3 separate regions of the Homo sapiens genome follow, and all the other regions are linked to region 2. The links come from fine-mapping of genetic effects on gene expression. A gene starts in region 2. Each other region holds a variant in brackets. All regions are shown on one strand. Distances are from middle to middle.

Evidence for each region.
Region 1: its variant is fine-mapped to the expression of VASH1 in whole blood (INTERVAL, PIP above 0.99).
Region 3: its variant is fine-mapped to the expression of VASH1 in whole blood (INTERVAL, PIP above 0.99).

Annotation. Positions count from the first base shown.
Region 1 is chr14:76,721,951-76,728,788 of GRCh38, forward strand. It overlaps LOC105370577 (a long non-coding RNA gene), which reads right to left and starts at 4,761. Exons shown (of 2, transcript XR_007064273.1): 1 at 4,569-4,761. The variant C/T (reference allele first, on the strand shown) is at 2,905.
Region 2 is chr14:76,758,027-76,764,864 of GRCh38, forward strand. VASH1 (vasohibin 1) reads left to right here and starts at 3,442. Exons shown (of 7, transcript NM_014909.5): 1 at 3,442-5,104. The coding sequence starts at 4,796. RefSeq lists silencers at 3,409-3,598, 3,699-3,968.
Region 3 is chr14:76,712,443-76,719,280 of GRCh38, forward strand. All of the region lies in intron 1 of LOC105370577 (a long non-coding RNA gene), which reads right to left. Among named protein-coding and RNA genes, the nearest start is that of VASH1, 46 kb to the right of the region's middle. The variant C/T (reference allele first, on the strand shown) is at 3,517.

The sequences.
Region 1 (6,838 bases), 36 kb before region 2:
GACACTGGGTCCCCAGAGATCCCATGGCTGGTGACACCATAAAAACTCGTTTTCTTCCCTGAGAGATGAAGAGGAGTGGGGGCAGGAGATGATCTACATGCCAACTCTGGGAATATGTTCAGTCCTATCACTGGGCCCCATTTTTGTTGGTGGCCAACGCAACAGTCTTTCCCTGACTCCTTCCCATGAGCTTGCCTTTCATCATAGGGGATGAAAGGCCAAAGATACCTTCCCAGCCTCTTCTGCGCTAGAAGTAGCCTAGTCAATAAGATACAAAAAAAATTCTCCTGGGTTGTTTTTAGAAAATCTTTTCCTCTCTGATAAAAACAGAGGGGCAAGTCCAGGCACAGTGGCTCACGCCTGTAATCCTAGTACTTTGGGAGGCCAAGGTGGGCGGATTGCCTGAGCTCAGGAGTTCAAGACCAGCCTGGGCAACATGGCAAAATCCCGTCTGTACTAAAAATACAAAAAATTACCCAGGCGTGGTGGCGCGTGCCTGTAATCCCAGCTACTCAGGAGGTTGAGGCAGGAGAATCGCTTGAACCTGGGAGGCAGAGGTTGCAGTGAGCTGAGATCACACCACTGCACTTCAGCCTGGGCGACAGGGCAAGACTCTGTCTCAAAAAAAAAAAAAAAAAAAAAAAAAGAGGGGCAAGAGGAGAGCTCCTTTGCCCACCTCCTTGTTTCTAGATTGGGTTGGGCGTGCCGAGTGAAGACAATGTGCTGGCGCTCAGGCAGGGCAGGAAGTGTGCTAAAGCCAAAAGGGTGGAAGGACCTCGCTGAGCTGCTGCACGAACCCCTGAACTGTCTACACCCAGGCTTCTTAATTATGGGCGATGATTAAGTGGCTTTTTGATTTAAGCTACTCTTGCACAGGTGTTCCATGATTTGCAGTCAAAAGCATTTCCAACACCCAGAGCTGTGCTAGGACTTGTAGAGGATACAGAGACTTCCAAGATTTGATTTCTTCCTTCTATTCTAGAAGCTTATATTCAAAGTAGGGAAACTAGACATATGTACAGGTGTTCAACATCCTTAAAAATCAAACAACTTGGAGTATAATCAAATTTTAAACTGAAAGTAACAGCAATTTCACTCTTGAGAACTTTTCCCAAGAATGTATGTTCAGAGATATTTGCTGAATTGCAGCATATAGTAGAGAAAATGTGGACATACCCTAAATATTTAGCAATAGGGATTGAAATTACAGCACATACATAAATGGAATACTATGAAGTCAGTAAAGATGGTGATGTTGATATATACTTAATGATGGGAATTCTATAGACAATACTCAGAAAAAAAAACAGGTTATCAACTGTGTACTATATAAATCCACTCATGCACAAAAACATCTGAGTCTGGTATATGTGAAACTGTCAGCAGTGATTATTGGTATACAGTGGAATCATGATGGATTTTTATTTTCCTTACACTTTTCTGTACTTTTTCCACTTGTTGCAATGAACACATATTGCATTTGTAATAGTTGCACTAACAGCATTTAGAAATGCAACTGAATAGTAAGACTATCTGTGCTAATAGAGTACAGTGAAGAGCTTTTAAAAATCTACCAAAATTCACTGTGCATCAACTATTTGCAAAACAACATGGTATATAGGAAGGGGATGGAGAACATGAAAAATAGATCCACAGTCATACACACAGTCCATGGCTTTGAAGGGTGGCAGAATATGCCATCCCCAAAATATGCCACTTGCCTTGATTATTTTGAACTAAAGGCACTTGCAAAAGGGGTGCTCTGACCTCCCCTTTTCTTCCTAAAAACAGGAGATAAATCTCCCATGTGAAAGGTCCCCTCCCTATACCAGGAGGAAAGAAACATTCTTATCATCAGAGATAGGAAGTTGAGACCAAGAGAAATCTGTACATACAGACCTTGTTAAAATAATTCTTACGTTCTTTTAGTCCTCATGTATATTTTAGTTACTCTTCCACAATTGCCTCTCTTTGTTCAACCTAGTATATAAGCACTTAGGTTTTGCCAGTTCTTTAGATCTTCATTTTCCTTTGGGGGATCCCATGTACATGTCAAAACCTGTGTGCTTTTCTCCTGTTCATCTGCCTATGTCATCTTAATTATCAGTCCCAACCAGTAACCCTAAGATGGTTGAGGTAAAGATTTTCTTCCCCTACAGCTTTAAAGAACCAAGTTTCTACCTGGGCAGCTAAGACACAGACAGGTGACATAGTTCCATCCATTCTTAGGAGCTTAGAATATTTGTTACATATCCTAACCTGCCCAATGATATGATAGATATTGAAATAAAACATCGAGTTTTAAGTATTTGGCTTTTATGAAAAAAAATTGGAACAACAGTTTTACATTATAATTTTATATACAGAGTATTTAAGTCAGGCATTGTGAATAGCTTCTGGGAAATGCTTTCAGACCTTGTAAGTTTTGCCTAGGATTGTTTGCAAAGTCTGATTTAACACCCTGTATATAATAGAGAAACCTAATTCACACCCAAACCTTTTGTATTTCTTAGAGTTACAAATGCAGCAAAGCATCTCTTAATTTCTAGAACCTTTCCAAATCATAAATGGTAGTATCAGTTTAAACCCTGTGATGTTCTGATAGGCTTATCACATATGTGGTGTGACCCTGATATTACCAGCAGCATAGCTTAATTCTTGAATTTGACCCTGTGTTAGTCCGTTCTCTCGCTACTAATAAAGACATACCCCAGACTGGGTAATTTATATAGGAAAGAGGTTTAATTGACTCACAGTTCAGATGGCTGGGGAGTCCTCAGGAAACTTACAATGACAATGGAAGGGGAAGCAAACACATCTTTCTTCAAATGGTGGCAGGAAGAAGTGCCAAGCAAAAAGGGGGAAAGCCCCTTATAAATCAGCTCTTGTAAGAACTCACTATCA[C/T]GAGAACAGCATGAGGATAAGTTCCCCCATGATTCAATTATCTCCCACCAAGTCCCTCTCATGACACGTGGGGATTATGGGAACTACAATTTAAGATGAGATTTGGCGGGGGACACAGCCAAACCATATCAACCCTCTTCCCCTGTTTCTGGGTATATTCTAGCAAACTAGGTAGCATTCTAGCTTTCCTTAGACTAGAACGATGTTTAAACAATTGTCCTTACATTTAACATTTGAGTACAGAAAAAGATCGTCTAGGTTTATTTACTAAAACTGTCAGCTGGGTTCACCAAGCCACCCAAAATCCAGATAACATGGATTCATCCCAAATTCTTGTGCTCACCACTGGCTCTGAGCTGCATCTGCAGAATCACATCACTTTAGGAATCACCTTGCCATCCTGCTGTTGTTGCTGTTGGCACACATACCATTGACCCATCCGTGGCACTCAAACCACTCCCTAATTTGCACAGGGGCAGGTGCATGTTGTGTGTGTACATGTGTTTGCGGGCATGCATGTGTGTGTGCATGTGTTTTGAAGGTCTTACCAAATATTGGTGCATGGCCCTCTCACCTCTTTCCTCCCACCTTAATGCAGGAACTGGTTTGTCTCTCTTTTGTTGCTTAAAGTTCTGCTGGCCGGTACCCTTAGTATCTTCTTTATTCATTTTCAGTCAGCAAATAGTTATTGAAGACCAACTATGTGCCATGCACTGTACTAGGTGCTGGGGAAAACAGTAATAGTCCTTAACTTCAGAGAGTTTACAGTCCACAGTCTCCTGTCAAAGACAAACCTTACTCAAAGAATCATACTACCAAATATAGTTTCCCTAAGTACTTTTTAACTTTGTATTTTTAAAATAATTTTAGACTCATGTAGAAGTGCACATAGATATACTATATAGTTCCCGTGTACCCTTAATCCAGCTTCCTCCAATGGTAACATCCTGCATATTCATAGTACAATCATCACAACTGAAATGGGAAAAGTTCCCTTGTCCCCCTTGCAGGGCGTGCGATGGGGATGTGGCTTGCTTTTTCAGTGCCCTGCTGCTCAAACCTGTAGGGGAGCATACAGACAGGCACGCTATGGGCCTCCGACCCCATGGCAGTGTCTAGGGGTGAATGTTTACAGCTGAAGCCCTAGTGGGCGTGTTACTGTGTGTGTGTGTGTGTGTGTGTGTGTGTGTATGTGTGTGTTTTGAGACCGAGTCTCGCTTTGTTGCCCAGGCTGGAGTGCAGCGGTGTGATCTTGGCTCACTGCAACCTCCGCCTCCCGGGTTTAAGCAATTTTCTGCCTCAGCCTCCCGAGTAGCTGGGATTACAGGCGCCCGCCACCGCGCCCGGCTAATTTTTGTATTTTTAGTAGAGACGGGGTTTCACCATCTTGGCCAGGCTGGTCTGAAACTCCTGACCTCATGAGGCCTCCCAAAGTGCTGGGATTACAGGCGTGAGCCACCGCACCTAGCCCAGTGTGCTCTTTTAGTTTTGCTTTTAGTTTGGCCGGCTATAGGTGGCTTGTTTTAGTCAGCTCAATTAGACCCCTGCCTTATTGCAAGGACAGAGGGCTTTCTATATCCCCAGGTTCTTGCCTTGGTGCACCAAAGAATCGGATCATATGTGGGCTTGGAGAATGAGCGGAAGGTTTTACTGAGTGGAAGTACCTCTTAGCAGATGGGGGAGCCAGAAGGGAGATGGTTTTCCCTGGAGTCGGTCTGCTTGGCGGCCCGAGCGCTCCTCCGACTGCCCCAGCCAAACACCGCGTTGTTTTGCCAGTCAGTGGCCTGCCGGCATGCTGGTGCCTGTGGGTGTGTTCCTCCACAGAGCACTCCTCTTGACTTCCAGCTGCTGCTGTTTCTGCCTTGCTAGGGTCTCGGGTTTTTATAGGCACAGGATGGGGGCATGGCAGGCCAGGGTGGTCTTGGAAAATGCAACATTTGGGCAGTAAATTCCTGTCCTCACCTAGGTCGGTGGGGGTGGAGCCCTAGCCAGAGACCACGCCCTCCTCTACCCAGCACTTCCCTTCTCCCTTCCCTATCATTTAAAAGAACTACACCCTTCCCTTCCCAGCACTCCTGTATCTAACCAGGAAATGTACATGAATGCAATACTATTAACTAAACTACAGCCCTTATTGGATTAGCATTTAGCCATCTCTAAGTGCTTTTTTTTGTTTTTTTGTTGTTTTGTTGTTGTTGTTGTTTTGTTTTGAGACACGGTCTTACTCTGTTATCCAGGCTGGCGTGCAGCGGCACAATTACGACTCACTGCAGCCTTATCCTCCCGGGTTCAAACGATCCTCCCACCTTAGCCTCCTGAGTAGCTGGGATTACAGGTGTGCAGCACCATATCTGGCTAAGTTTTGTATTTTTTGTAGAGACTTAGTCTCACCATGTTGCCCAGGCTGGTCTCAAATTCCTGACCTCAAGCAATTCTCCTGCCTTCACCTCCCAAAGTTTTGGGATTACAGGCATGAGCCACCATGCCTAGCCTCTGTGCTAGCCTCTAAGTGCTTTTTAATACACTAATTAATAATTATAACGCCTAGCCTCTGTGCTAGCCTCTAAGTGCTTTTTAATACACTAATTAATAATTATAACAATCATAGGCAGTAAATACTACCATCACCCCTATTTTATAGATGCAGGAACTGAGACCAGAACAGTTACATAACTTGCCGAAGAGTCAGCTTGCAGTGGCATGACGAGGATTGCAAATCCAGGCAGCCCGGCTGTAAGGGATTTGCTCCCCACCACTATACTGTCCCTCCTCTTAACACTGCCCAACCTAGCCAGAACATGTTTTCTTGTTCAAACCCAAACAACCTATCATAGCTCTACAATACATGGCCAGGGAGCTATTAGAAAAAGTTGTAACACTTGGATGACATCTTTAAAGCCAAAATTTTGCTTCCAAAATCAAAGTTTGTTTCAATGGCAGAGGCTTCCCAAAGGAAATGACTATTTCGATCACTGTTCATGAAACAATATTCTTTGGGCTAACAAAGGCTGACATTTCAAACATTTCCCTGTGGTTGAAAATAACTTCAGCTGAAATATTTTGATTCTCAAAAGGAAGTTTCTTTGTAAGAAACGGCAAGAAATGCAGGTGCAGTTAAGGCACACCCAAAACAAAGGCCTCTGAAAATGCAGGGCTTCCTCTCCAAATCATACAATGTTTCCAACTGTCTCATTCCCACTGAAGGAGATAAGAACATGCCTTCCCCAAAATATGCTGCCCTGGCATATTGACTATTTTGAGTTAAAGGCATTTGAAAAACAGCAGGTGCAAGAAGATCATTCTGACATTCCTTCTGTTTCTTAAAAGCAGGAGATGAAACTGCCATGTGAAAGATGCTTTCTTTCCCACAGTATAGGGAAAGTATACTTTCCCTATACTACAAGGAAAGTAACAGTCTTATTATCAAGAATGGAAGCTTTAGTGGAGAGAATTCTGTACAGACCTTGTTAAAATAACTTACCTTTTTTAGCCTCCCCACTGAATTTAGTTACTTTTTCACAATTCTACTATTCTGTCTAATTCAGTATGTAAGTGTTCGACTCTAGCTGTGTCTTTGGGTCTTCAATTCTTTATGAAGGCCCCCATGCCATGGAAAACTTGTACTAAATATACTAGTATTCTTTTATCCTGTGGATCTGTCTTATGTCACTTTAATTCTCAGGCCCAGCTGAAAAACCTTAAAAAGGTAGGGGTAAAATTCTGCCTCCCCTATACCACACAACTCTAAGCCACATGAAATCTGCAACACATGCACATTAATCTGCTTAATGTTGGAAAATACCAATCCCAGAGGAGAGAGAAATAGAAAAGAAAAATTAAACAAGAAAAAACACCTTTTTGCCTAACCATGCATTTGTGGCATGTAAACGTGTTACCACAGTGCAGAAGTGACCTAAATGACCAAAGAGCCCCA
Region 2 (6,838 bases):
ACTCCTTTTCTTTTCTTCTTTTACCTCATAAATTATGAACATGAAAACAGCAAAAAGTTGAGTCAGAACATCTACCTTTTATAAACACATCTATACCTGTGTGCCTCCATGCCCCTCTTTTACTAACAGCACCCCATTTACCTTTAGGGCAGTCCTTCTCCCCCAACCACCTGTAGTCTTGGCTAATGAAATTGCCCCATCCTCCTCTAGCCAAGGATCCAAGCTAAGTCAACAGACTCTTCTCTCTGGAAATTTCACTCTAGCTTCTGTGTCACAAGAATAGAAAATGTGTCAGAGCAGATTAATATGAGTGTTGATGCCCTAAGACAACATGCGTTCATTTGCAGACCATTAGTCCAGAGTGTGACGATAACAAATGTGACACATGATATGAGTTAGGCGTCATTATCGTCATCCTTGTCATCATGAAAGTGACTTGTACCCAGCAGCTCAGATGTGCCTGCTCCTGTACTAGGTATGTAATTTGCCTAGCTTCTCTTATGCATCCTTTCTTCATCTGTAAAATGGAAATCATACTCATCCTAACTCTTCCACGGTTTTTGTGAAGACAGCAAAAGGAATAATTGTCATGAGGGCCGGGCGCGGTGGCTCACGCCTGTAAGCCCAGCAATTTGGGAGGCCGAAGCAGACAGATCACTTGAGGTCAGGAGTTGGAGACCAGCCTGGCCAACATGGTGAAACCCCATCTCTACTAAAAATACAAAAATTAGACAGACATGGTGGCAGGCACCTATAATTCCAGCTACTCAGGAAACTGAGGCAGAGAATCACTTGAACCTGGGAGGCAGAGGCTGCAGTGAGCAGAGATCGAGCCACTGCACTCCAGCCTGGGTGACAGACCGAGACTCTGTCTCAGGGGAAAAAAAAAAAAAAGAAAAAAAAGAAAAATAACGGTCACGAAAGCTTTGAGCCAAATAAGGAGTTACCCAAGTGTCTGTTGGAGGAGTTGTTCCCAAGGCATAGGTGTGGGGAGTCATGGGAGGGCTTGATGAAGGACCCAGGATCTGAGACCAATTCAAAAGTTGTGCCATACCAGGTTAAGTCACTTGTTCTCTCTGGGCTTTTGGCTTAGATAAGACTGGGTTATACACATCTCTTTCCAGTTTCACCATTTTCTAATCTATTTGCAAGCCCCCTTGCCTGACACATACCCTCTTCCACTTCTATGCACACATGCCAGAAAATTCTCTAGCCTAGTCCATGCTGACCTTGTACCCAACTCATTTCTTCTTTTCCCAGCTCCTCACCTGATTGGGAAGTTGCTCTGGGTATGCACTCCCACAGCTTCCTGAATAACCCTCTGGCAGAGCACCTTATGGAAATCATGCTTAACTATCTCCTCCACTAGTAGGCCATAAGTCCAACTAGAGCAAAGGCCATGTCCCTCTTGTTCACTACTGCTTCTCCAGTGCCCAGTACAGAGTCAAACACATAGAAGATGTTCTATGAGTACTTACTCTTTGAATGAATACCCTACATCTATTTTATTTGTCATTTCAGAAAACACATGGTATTATCTCATGCTGCGTAACAAGTTAGTCCAAAACTTAGCAGCTTAAAACGAGAATAGTCACTTATCCTCTCTCAATTTCTGTGGGACAGAAAGTCAGACAGGGCACAGCAGGGCTGGTTGTTCTCTGCTCCATGTCTGGGACCTCAACTCTAAGACTTAAAGGCCGAGGGCTGGCAAGACCTGAAGTCTCGGTTTGCCATGATCTGGTGATTGACTCTGGCTGTTGGCTGAGAGCCCAGCAGCAGCTGTCAGCGAGAACACCCTCATGTGGCCTCACCATGTGGCTTGGGCTTCTTCACAACATGGTAGCTGGTTTCTTCTGAGGAACCAAGAAGAAGCTGTCTCCTTTTTATGGCCTGGTCTTAAGAGTCATACAGCTTCACTTTCATCACACTTTATTCATTAGACACCAGTCACCAAGTACATCCCACATTCAGGGGGAAAGGAATTAGATCCCATCTTTTGAAAAGAATGGTCAAGAGCTTGCAAGCCAATTTTAAAACCAGCACCACTTGGCTAACACAAGAAGCAATGTATAGAGTGAAAAACAAGTGTCTGAAGAAGTAAGACTTCTGTTCACATTCTAGCTCTGCCACTTACTAGCTGTGTGAGTTTGGGGAAATTACCCTCTGAGACTTGGTTTATACAATACAGGGTGATAGTTGTTGATCCCTAGTGATTTTTCTACGCTTGGAGTCTTCTTGCCTTAGTGAGTTTAAGAAGATCCAGGCTGAACTAACTTTCTTGGAGTCTTGCAATCCTTCCCATCACTGATAACCCTTGGTTTCTGACCCTGGAGGTAGTAAGAGGTTGCTACGGGAGCACAGGGTACCCAGAAAGTTCAGATACTAGGGACAGCTTTAGAGAACAGATGTGAAACCACTGAGGCCCTGGGGTCTCTCTAAGGCCTTTAACCCAGCCCTTGTGTAGTAACCTCAGCTTGTCAAGAAATGCAACGACCCCACAACTAAGGAATCTGAATCTGCCGGCTAAGGCCAAGGAATCTGCATTCTCCCACAAGACTGTGATTCATGCTAACTACAGGCAGGGGAGAGGGGGAGCATCTTAAAGCACACACTCGGCCGTCTCTTCCTAAAGTTCTTGGCTTCAGCCTAGAGATAGTGCCTTTCCCACCATTTACAACTCTATGGCATGAGGGAGGCGGAGGGTGCGTCCAGTGTCCAACCACGCACCACAGCTGGTTGTACTTTCACCTTCCTCTAGGCCAGCGGACCCTCCCCAAGCATTGCCTCCCACGCCCACGTCGCGGTCCCACCCTGGTCCGCGGGGTCCAGAGCGTCCAAAGCCCGGTCTAGGCAGATGGTCTAGGGGTGAGCTCTGCGCACCCCATTCCCACCAGTGCAGGCAATCGAATAAAACAGGGTGACTTTTAACCCTTTTCGTTTCCAGAGATAGTGACCCCCCGTCTCAATCCCTAGATGTCCTCCTCTAAGAACTGTGCGCGCTGGGAGGGACTCTGCGCTCACTCACTGTGACCACCTCGGCTGGGATATGGGGAAACTGAGGCCTACAGAGGGAAGGGAACTGCTGAACGTCCCAAAGCAACACAGGCACTGAATCCGGTCTAGAATCCCAGTCTTCCAGGCCAGTGCTCTCGGTCCTACCGGCTCAGGGCCCCTGCGAAGAATCTTTTTCAAGAAATTCCCGACCGCAGGAATTCCTTCTGCGCTAGGAATCTCCATGGAGTTTGCGCTCCCTCTGGCACGTTGAAAACGTCCTCCGCAGCTTCGCACCGGCTTCGCGGCGCCCTGACAGCTGGGTGAGGAGGGAGCGAATGCCCACCGGCGTCCTTGGGGTAACTTGGGACAGAGGCACCGCCGCGGGGGGCGGAGGACTGGGCGCGAAGGCGCTGGCCCTTTAAGGGGGGGACGGAGCGCATGCGCGGCGCGGGCCGTAGTCGAGCCTGGTGGGCGGCTGGCTGGCAGGGGACGTGGTCGGCGGCAGCGGGGCCCAGGGGCGGCGGGGCTGCAGCAGCGGCGGCCCCAGCTTCGCCGAGCAGCGATCGGCTGGTGGGCTTCTCGTTGGCGGGCTCCGCGTTGGCGGGCTGCTCCCCAGGCACCAGCGCAGCGCGCGCTCGCCCGGCTTCGTCACTCGCCTCCAGCTACATCCGCCGGCCGAGGCTGCGCGAGCCTCCGGGCTTGCGGTCCCCGCCCCGCGGTCCTTCCTCCACCCTCAGCCAGGGCAGCTGCAGCCCGAGCGAACAGCCACGGAGCATCCTCCGCCCGCCCGGGCCGCGCCACCGCCCATGCTGCAGCCAGTCCCAGGCAGCGACCCCGCGGCCGCAGCCCGCCGCTCAGTGACCTCAGCCTGGCCCCTGCGCGCCGCCCGAGCCGGTCCCGCTGAGCCGCGGGCCCCGTGCCCTGCGATGGCTCGGCTGGTGCAGCGCGGCGCCAGGTGCCAGCCGTCCTCCCGCTGAGACGCGCCCGAGTGGGGACCCGCTGGGCCTCGGGGCTCGCAGCCTTCGCCTCCCCGCCGCGCCCGCTCCCTTTCTGGGGACTCCGCCGCTGTTTCTGGGGACGAGGGGACAGGGGACCCAGACAAAGCCCACTTTGTGCAGGGAGTTGGCCGCAGGCGGGGAATGTGCGCGTCGGCGCGCGCCCCCTCCCCGCTCCCGGCCAGCTGCGAGTCTTGGCTCCCGGACTTGTCTCGTCGCGTCGGAGAAATCGCCCCCCAGCGCCGCTCTCCCGCCCGGGGGTCTTGGTTCCGAGCTCGCGCGGCCGGGAGTCGCCTCGGTCTTCCTTGGGGCGCGCGCAGATGTGAGCGTGCGAGAGTTGTGTAGGGGATTTTGTTCCCTCCGAAACTGAGACCCAGGGCGCCCAGTGGGCACCCGTGCCTTGACTCTGTCCTTTCTGCAGCCGCTGGTCCGAGCTGTCTGGCCTCAGTTTCCCTCCGACTTTTCTCCGCTCTGCCAGCCCTCACTGCTGCCCGTCATTGTTCTCGCAGTTAGATGGGGGTGCTTTGTGACGGCTGCCAAGTTGGGGTGTGTTCTCTTTATTCCGTTTTTCAAACAGAACAAGGCCTCCAAGGCTGACCCCAGACAACCCACCCCCTCGGACCCTAATTCACCTTATTGCACTGATTTTTTTTATCAAGTCGTATTTTATTGTACAGGAGCCACGCCCTGATTTCTTAAAGGCGCCTTGCACTCTGGCCATGTGTTATCTCTGCAGCCGGTGTGTGGGAGGCCTCTTGTGAGCCAGTTGTTTTCCCGCCTCCACCACCCCCCTCGAAGATTTAGGGATGCCAGGGGGGAAGAAGGTGGCTGGGGGTGGCAGCAGCGGTGCCACTCCAACGTCCGCTGCGGCCACCGCCCCCTCTGGGGTCAGGCGTTTGGAGACCAGCGAAGGAACCTCAGCCCAGAGAGATGAGGAGCCAGAAGAGGAAGGGGAAGAGGACCTGCGAGACGGAGGCGTCCCCTTCTTTGTCAACCGGGGTGGGCTACCTGTGGATGAGGCCACCTGGGAAAGGATGTGGAAACACGTGGCCAAGATCCACCCCGATGGAGAGAAGGTGGCGCAACGGATCCGTGGGGCCACAGACCTGCCCAAGGTGAGACACACGGGTCAGGGGGGTGATAGCACAGTCTAGGTTTTAGTGACCTTGGGGCCAAGAGTGAAGCCACACTCTCCTCCCACGGGGCAGGGGACCACTGGCTCGGTAAGATCTTTAAAATGCAGTGATATCATACCTGTCTAGGAGAACTTTCTCTCACTGCCATTCTAGGAGGGAGGCTCACATACATTGTCTCCAGGAGGCCCTCCCCGCTGTCTTTTAAAATGTCCACGTTTTACAGGAGGGGACAGCAGCAGATGGAACTAACAAACACAGTAGGATGGCTTGACGTCTCATTTGCTTGATGACACTTGCCAAGCCAGAGAACTGTGAGCAGACAAATGTAATGAATGACTAAGGAGATGCAGGGCTTCATATGTTGAGAAAATATTTTCGTGCATTATGTCATTGAATTCTCCCAACAGCCTTGTGACGTAAGTACAGTTTGGATTCCCATTTTACAGATGAGAAAGCTGAAAACTCAAGTAGGAACTCAAGATCCCACAGCCAGTAAGTGGCAGAACTGAGATTCAATTTCAGGTCTTCAGGAGAAGGGCGGGGGGTGGTGGTGGAGGGAAGTGTCCAGGTCCTCTTCTCTGTTGGACAGTAGATTCAAGCACATTAGAAGAGGTCTTATGGAGAAGCATAAAATGAAATAATTTTTCTGTGTTGGCTGTAACTCCTCCTCCATGACAGCTATACTTCAGTTGTGTCACCAACGAAAACAGAGGCTGTATCTCATTCATCTTTGTCTTCCCAAGGCCTCCTGTGTGCCTGGCACAGAACAGGCACTAGTGTGTGTGTTTGCTGAATGAAAGGGTATTTGAGAGTTTCTGTGCTGTACGCTGCTATATGGAAATACATGCCAGATATTAAAAAAAAAAAAAACATGATCAAGACTAGGAGGCACTTTGCCAAATGCAGAGGCCTGAAATCTCCAAAAAAGAGCCCTTTGGACTGAGTTCAGAGCCCAGTGCTTAGCCCTGCCTGCCCAGGTTGGAAGGAAGGGGGCTAGGAAGAATGGAAGTTAGTGTGAATTAGACATGAGGACAAGTGGCCCGTTTTGTTTTTACCAAGTTATTGGTACAGCCATCAGAAAGTGTCTTCTGGGAAAAAGAGAATCAAAGGTTGAAGGTTTAAATACTGCCTAATGTTTCCAGGGGAAACAAAATGTAGATTGATTTGGAATGGCCGCATAAATGTGCTCTGCACTGACTTAATATTTATTTAGCTAATCCCCTAGAGTTGGATGTTGTTTCCAGTTTTATTCCTAAAATGAATACTATGGTGAACATTCTAAAATATAAATTTTGGGGTTCATCTCTGATTATTTCCTTGGGAAAAATTCTGAAAGCGAAAGTATTGCGTCAAAGGATATTGACATTGGTAGGGGTCACCTGCTTATCTATATGGCCTCTTCCACCTATTTGAGATGCAGTTTTCTTATCAATAAGATGAGGTTGATTGTGGGGAAGAAATGAGAGACTGTGTGTTAAAGTATTTAACAAACTGTAAAGCCCCAAACCAGTACCTGGTTATTGGATATCAGTTACCTTTTTTTTTTTTTTTTGAGATGGAGTCTCACTCTTTCCACCAGGCTGGAGTGCAGTGGCATGATCTTGGCTCACTGCAGCCTCCACCTCCCTGGTTCAAGTGATTCTCCTGCCTCAGCCTCCTGAGTATCTGGGATTGTAGGCACCTACCACCACACCTGGCTAATTTTTGTATTTT
Region 3 (6,838 bases), 46 kb before region 2:
TAAAAAGTAGCCAGGCGTGGTGGTGCAGGTTGCGGTGAGCCGAGATCAAGCCATTGCACTCCAGCCTGGGCAACGAAAGCGAAACTCTGCCTCAAAAAAAAAAGAAAAGAAAAGAAAAGAAAATGATTATATGGCATAATGTTAAGTGAAAAGACATAAATTGGCACTACCCCAATTGTAAAATGTGAGATTGGAACCTAATATATAAAAATGGAAACATTAATCAGTTACTATACTGTATTTCAATGTCACAATTATGGGTAGTGTTTTTCTTTAAACTAGTGGCTATTATTATTTTGTTATCTTTTTTTTTTAATTTTATTTTCTCTTTTTTTTTTTTTTTTTGAGACAGGGTGTCTCTCTGTCACCCAGGCTGGAGTACACTGGTGCAATCACCAGCTCACTGCAGCTTCAACCTCCTAGTCTCAAGTGATCCTCCCACCTCAGCCTCCTGAGTAGCTGGGATTACGGTGTGCACCACCACACCTGGCTACTTTTTATATTTTTTGTAGAGATGGGGTCTCACCATGTTGCCCAGGCTGATCTTGAACTCCTGGGCTAAAGTGATCCTCCCGCCTCGGGCTCCCAAAGTGCTGGGATTACAGGCATGAGCCATCACACCCAGACTTGTTCAATACCTTTAAGGCAGCATTTTAAAGTTACCATTGGTGGGTTCCTAGGGCTCCCCACAGCTGTCTTACACTAGGGACAAAGAGGCCATTGTCCTTTTCCGTTTAGCAAGCCGAAAAGGTTCCCAATTTTGAAAAGCTACCTTCCTCCAGCATACCCCCACAAAAGTCATTGTCCTGAAGACCTCTGGGAACATGACAAATGGCAGATCTGTGCAAATATACAACCGCCCTAACCGAGGCCACAGCCACCCGGCCCACTTAGGAGAGCTGGCATTGAATGGGAAGTGGCCGGCGCTTTCAGCCTGGCCAGCGGGCTGACAAGGGGTCTTTGTAATGGGAACAAAACTGCATCCCCCTTCACCTGGAGATTCTCCAGCACCCCCTCCTCTCCTGCACTGCCCCCCAGCACACATCCGTGCACACACGCACACAGAGGGGGGTTTATGTTTGCTTCGTAGGTGTGTTAATAAAAATCTCCTTAGGGTCACCGCTTCTGAGGTTTTGAAGTGAAACACTGCCCAAAAGGAGGGTTCATCTTCAAGGCAGCCTCACCTTCACCCCATTAAGTAGCTCCTGCTCACATCTTTCCTGAAACCACTTAAGGTAATTCCCTGTCTTAACGCTGAAGGTGCTTATGGTTCTATTTCAGACTCCTGGTGTGGGCAGTACAGGGTGAAAGAAATGCCCCGGATAATTAAGGAGATTATTTTATTCAGGCTATTAGGGAGAACTTTCATGAATACAGAGAAAGTTCTCAGCAAAAAGGAAGTGGGGGAAGCTGGGGTGGTACAGAGGCAAGGCTCTGGGGGAAGAATGGACACGGCTTATTTGAAGCATGCGATGGGAATCTACAGAATATGCAAGGGCAGGGGAGTCCTTTGCAATTTCTACCTCCCTTTGGAGCACCAAATAAAGTCCAATATGGGCAACAGAAGACCAGAAAGCTGGCCTCCCCTGTAGCTGAGGAAGGAGGAAATGAGTAGTGAGAATGATGTCCCAGATGCCTCCAGGGGAGGCGGTTCTGGGGACTGGGGTAAGTAGGGGCTGTGGGGAGAGAAAGAGGGTGTGGGAGGAGGAAACACATCTCCAGGTGCTCTTTGGCAGCTGAAATTTCATTCCTCAAATTCAGAAATCATCAGGCCAGGCATGGTGGCTCACGCCTGTAATCCCAGCACTTTGGGAGGCTGAGGTGGGTGGATCACCTGAGGTCAGAAGTTCAAGACCAGCCTGGCCAACATGGTGAAACTCCGTCTCTACTAATAATACAAAAATTAGCCAGGCGTGGTGGTGCACACCTGTAATTCCAGCTACTTGGGAGGCTGAGGCAGGAGAATCGCTTGAACCCGGGAGGCAGAGGTTCCAGTGAGCCAAGATCACGCCATTGCACTCCAGCCTGGGCAACAAGAGTGAAACTCAAAAAAAAAAAAAAATTTTTTTCAGAAATTATCTCCTCCCATCCTGTCCTTCTCCCTCCGTCTTCCTCAAATGGCAGGAGGGTGAGGCTATGATTGAAAGAAAACCACTCAATTCCTTGTATCCCCCCAAACACATGTACACACATGCAGCTCTGTTCCAACCTCCTGGAAGGAAACTGGCTGTCACCAAAGGATTCCAGCCAAATACTTGGGGTTCCTCAAGGATATCTTTTGAAAACAACAACAACAAAAATGTAGATTTTTTTTTTTTTTTTTTTGAGACAGTCTCGCTCTTGTTGCCCAGGCTGGAGTGCAATGGCACGATCTTGGCTACTGCAACCTCCACTTCCCGGGTTCAAGCGATTCTCCTGCCTCAGCCTCCTGAGTAGCTGGGATTACAGGCGCCTGCCACCATGACCAGCTAATTTTTGGACTTTTAGTAGAGATGGGGTTGCACCATGTTGGCCAGGTTGGTCTCAAACTCCTGACCTCAGGTGATCCGTCCGCCTCGACCTCCCAAAGTGCTGGGATTACAGGCGTGAGCCATCGTGCCCAGCCAAATGTAGATGGTTGAACAGCTCCAGTCACAATGTAAAGTTTTAATTTTCCTCTGCAATAAAAGCAGCCTTTTTCTTAATGTTTTCTTTGATAGAGGGAAGCCCCCACCACCACTCCCGGCTTCTTTGCCCCAGCCCTCCTCTTTATCTAACCCAGCCAGATGTGTGCATTTTTTTTTTCCATTCACATGGCACAGGGTTTGAAGATGAGCTGTATCCCCCATTAGCCACTCTTTCCACCCCCGGAGAGACTCTGATTGTGGAGGATTCGTGCTGCTGACTGTAGATAAAACAATCGAGATGGGGGGCTGCTTTGGAAACGGGGGGGGGTGTGGGGATTTTTCCATCTGGAATCACAAGGCTTTTGGTGGTAGGCCCAGATGGAACCACGATCTGTCTGTGGAGACAAAGCTTCTTTTGGAACTGGTCATGGCCACAGGAATATGAGGTTTTTGACAATACGGTGGCCAAGAGATAGGAAACTGAAGTGGGTTATGAAATGCCAAGGACAGATCACTCTGACTCTGGTGAAGTAAGCCCATTAGTAAGCTGAACTCATGTAATTCATCAAGGAGCTTCCTTGAGCCGGTGAAAACAAGGATTGTAGAACTGTGAGTTCAGACCTGGACGTTAGAAAAACAACTCCCAAGTCAGCCAGTCTCCACCCTCTTAGCTTAAGTCATCTTTCGGCTGGGAGCAAACATGCTTCCTTACCACACCAGAACAATGCTAGGTCTTCAATTATTGTAAAGAATTTTACAAATGCTGAGTGTCCCTGTCGACACTATTAATGAACATCCTCTAAGCTGCACTTAAGCCAAATCCCAAGGGATAATTAGGGATACGGAACAATGATACAATGTAGATTGCCAGTTTGCTTGAAGCTCCCAACATCCAATTAGAGGGTGGTAG[C/T]GATTTCCCAGAGCACAGGAGATGAAAACCATCTGTCACAGCCTGCTTCCTAAATCCTCCCTTCCAGGAGCTCTTTCTGTCACCTAATAATGCCAAAAAGGAGCACCTTCTCGGCCCTGAAAGCCCATCTTCCGACCAGACATGAGTTAACAAGCTGCGCGCCCCAGGGCAGACCACATTTCCTCTCTGAGCCTTCATTTTCTCTTCTATAAAATGAACCTGCTGGACATGGGTTGGTGGCTTTCAAACTTTTGAAAGCAGTGGAAACTTTTGTTTTTCTCAAGAGGAAAGCTTGATGATGGAACTCAATTTGGAGTATCTTTATGTCACTGAGAGGAAGTATAATAAACACTCCACTAATCAGACTGCTGGAGGGAGACGGCTCAGCTCTTTTGTGTCTTAAATCTCCAAGCAGACTATCAGTCCCCATGGATTGGATCACTGCCTGCAAGTATTAACTGCTTAATAAATGTCACGTAGGAAAAAATGTGTGCTTCATTGGGAAACTGTGTATCCTTTAGAGCATACCCTTCCAGGTTATCTGAGTGCGATGCTTTAGGGTCTCTGGGCCATTCATTGCCTTTGAGCTATTTTTCAAATCTGTAAATTGTAGATAACTGATAGCAATGTAAATAATTCCTGTTTGCAGGCATGCAAATACATTCTGTCCCGAGGTGGTTCAATTTACTTCCTATTTTCCAAAGGAAAGCCAGTTTCCTTCTATTTGAAATATGTTTCCTTCTATTCGTAAATATATTTCCTTCTATTCGTAAATACACTTCAACATTGCTTTTCTCCATATAAATTTGTGCCTCTTTTGACTTCTCATTTGAACCGGTTGTCACATCTTACCAGCCTTCATTAATGATGCACTAAATACAATTTTAACATGTCCATTTTATGTTTGTAGGAATGTCATGATTTTAGCTTTCTTTGAAAATTGCCTTAGTTAAAAAGTTTATCAATAAAAATGAACATTTTTTTTTTCCGAGTTCTCCCCTGATGTCCAATAGCATTTATACTCACACACAGTTGACTTTAAAAGTATAATGTTATGGAAATGCCTTTAGGAAAGCAACACATGCTCATTGGGAATAAGAAATGAGAGAAAGAGCCACATGGGATACTAGGAGCTAGGCTCCCTTAGGCATAAAAGGGCAAGTCGGGGAGCAGTTACCCCAACTCAAGAGAGAAGCTATTGAGAAGGCTGGTGATAGGAGCTGAGGGCTGAAACAGGCGGAGGCAACCAACCCAGGGCAACCCAGTGTAATCACACCAGACCAATCTGGTTCAACTCTTTTTTTTTTTGAGACAGAGTCTCGCTCTGTTGCCCAGGCTAGAGTGCAGTGGCGCAATCTTGGCTCACTGCAAGCACCGCCTCCCAGGTTCACACCATTCTCCTGCCTCAGCCTCCTGAGTAGCTGGGACTACAGGCACCTGCCACCACACCTGGCTAATTTTTTTTACTTTTAATAGAGACGGGGTTTCACCGTGTTAGCCAGGATGGTCTCGATCTCCTGACTTCGTGATCTGCTCACCTCGGCCTCCCAAAGAGCTGGGATTACAGGCGTGAGCCACCGTGCCCAGCCCTGGTTCAACTTTTATGTAACAAAGTCGTGAGTTGTTTTTTGGTTGCCATGGATCCCCAAGTTGAAAGTCAAGTAACCTGAACATGCCCAGATGAACCAAGTGTGCAACCACAAGTGGAACCTAAGTGCTGGAAGCCGGGAGCAAGGACTGCTTTCAGAGGTGGACTGCACATGGCAGGATCCAGGATCCAATCAGATTGAGCTCTAGTGTCACCCCGTGGCAGGATCCAGTCAGATCATGCCTCCCCAGCATCACCTCATTGCAAGATCCAATCAGATCATGGTTCATTACCCTTCGCCTATAAAACCTGCCCCAGCCCACCAGCTAGGCGACATAGATTTCAGCCTTGCCTCCTGTCTTGCCAGTCAATTCCCAATAAAGGTTTTCAGTGCCATGGTATTGGCTTGTGTGTGCATCAGGCAGTGAGCCCATTGCTTGCTGGGTAATACCAGCAGAAAGAGAACAGAAATGAATATTCCAGCCTCACTCTGCTCCCTGCCTTCATGGGCCAAATCCAGCTGGACCAAGAGGGAAAGGGAGTACACATGTTCATAGGCGTCAGCCTTCTTGGTGGAGGGGACATCACAGTCATTCAAACAGCGAACCAAGACAGCTTGGGATGAGAATCAAACCACTCATAGCTCACTGTCTATATTAACATGACTTTACTATTCCACTGTCCTCATCAAAGTAACTTCACTATTATTCCAGAAAATGCTTGCCCAGGAAGATAAAAGCTGTAAATAACTCTACTGTTCATCCCAGGAACTTCCTGAAGGACACACCATGTCTTCAACAGGAAGCATCAGTTTATAGGTTCAATAGGAAGACAGTTTATACCCCAAGGTTCTTTGAACGCCTCAGCCAGAAATCCTCACTTTGCTGTGTCTACCAATCATGATCTTAGCAACCCCCATCAAGCATGCCACCTCTGCACTGAAAGAGCCACCTTAAACCAGGCCTCAAAGTCTCAATAAAAATCACTTTGCCCTCCCACTTTGGGAAGCTACTGAGGCTTTGTGGAGGGGGTACTCTACCTTACCACGGTGAACAATCAACTCAGCCTTGCCTTCTCCGCAGGTTGCTCTGGTGATATTTAGGAGATGGCATTTGACAGAAGGGAAGCATATTTGGAGATGATTGTGTATGTGAGCCTGAATCATCCAGGCAGGTTTCTTCCCTGCTCCAGTTCAGTGGGACGACTGCATAAATATTCTTTCTTTTTCCTATGTGGATACAAAATATTGAGTTTGGGGGCTGGAAGGAATCCCAGCGATGAACTCATCCCTCCCCTCCTTTATGGATTAGGTCAGTAGAACTTACACAGGGAGGTCAGCCAGGGGGCTGGGATCTGAATTCAAGTCCTGCGGCTCTGAGCCAGGTGGCCTGCATTTATTCATTCTCTTGCTGCCATGTTTCTCTTTTCTTTTCTTTTTTTTTTTTTTTTTTTTTTTTTTTGAGATGGAGTTTCACTCTTGTTGCCCAGGCTGGAGTGCAATGGCATGATCTCCGCTCACTGCAACCTCCACCTCCTGGGTTCAAGTGATTCTCTTGCCTCAGCCTCCTGAGTAGCTGAGATTATAAGCATGTGCCACCACACCCAGCTAATTTTGTATTTTTAGTAGAGACAGGGTTTCTCTATGTTGGTCAAGCTGGTCTCGAACTCCTGACCTCAGGTGATCCACCCGTCTCGGCCTCCCAAAGTGCTGGGATTACAGGCATGAGCCACTGT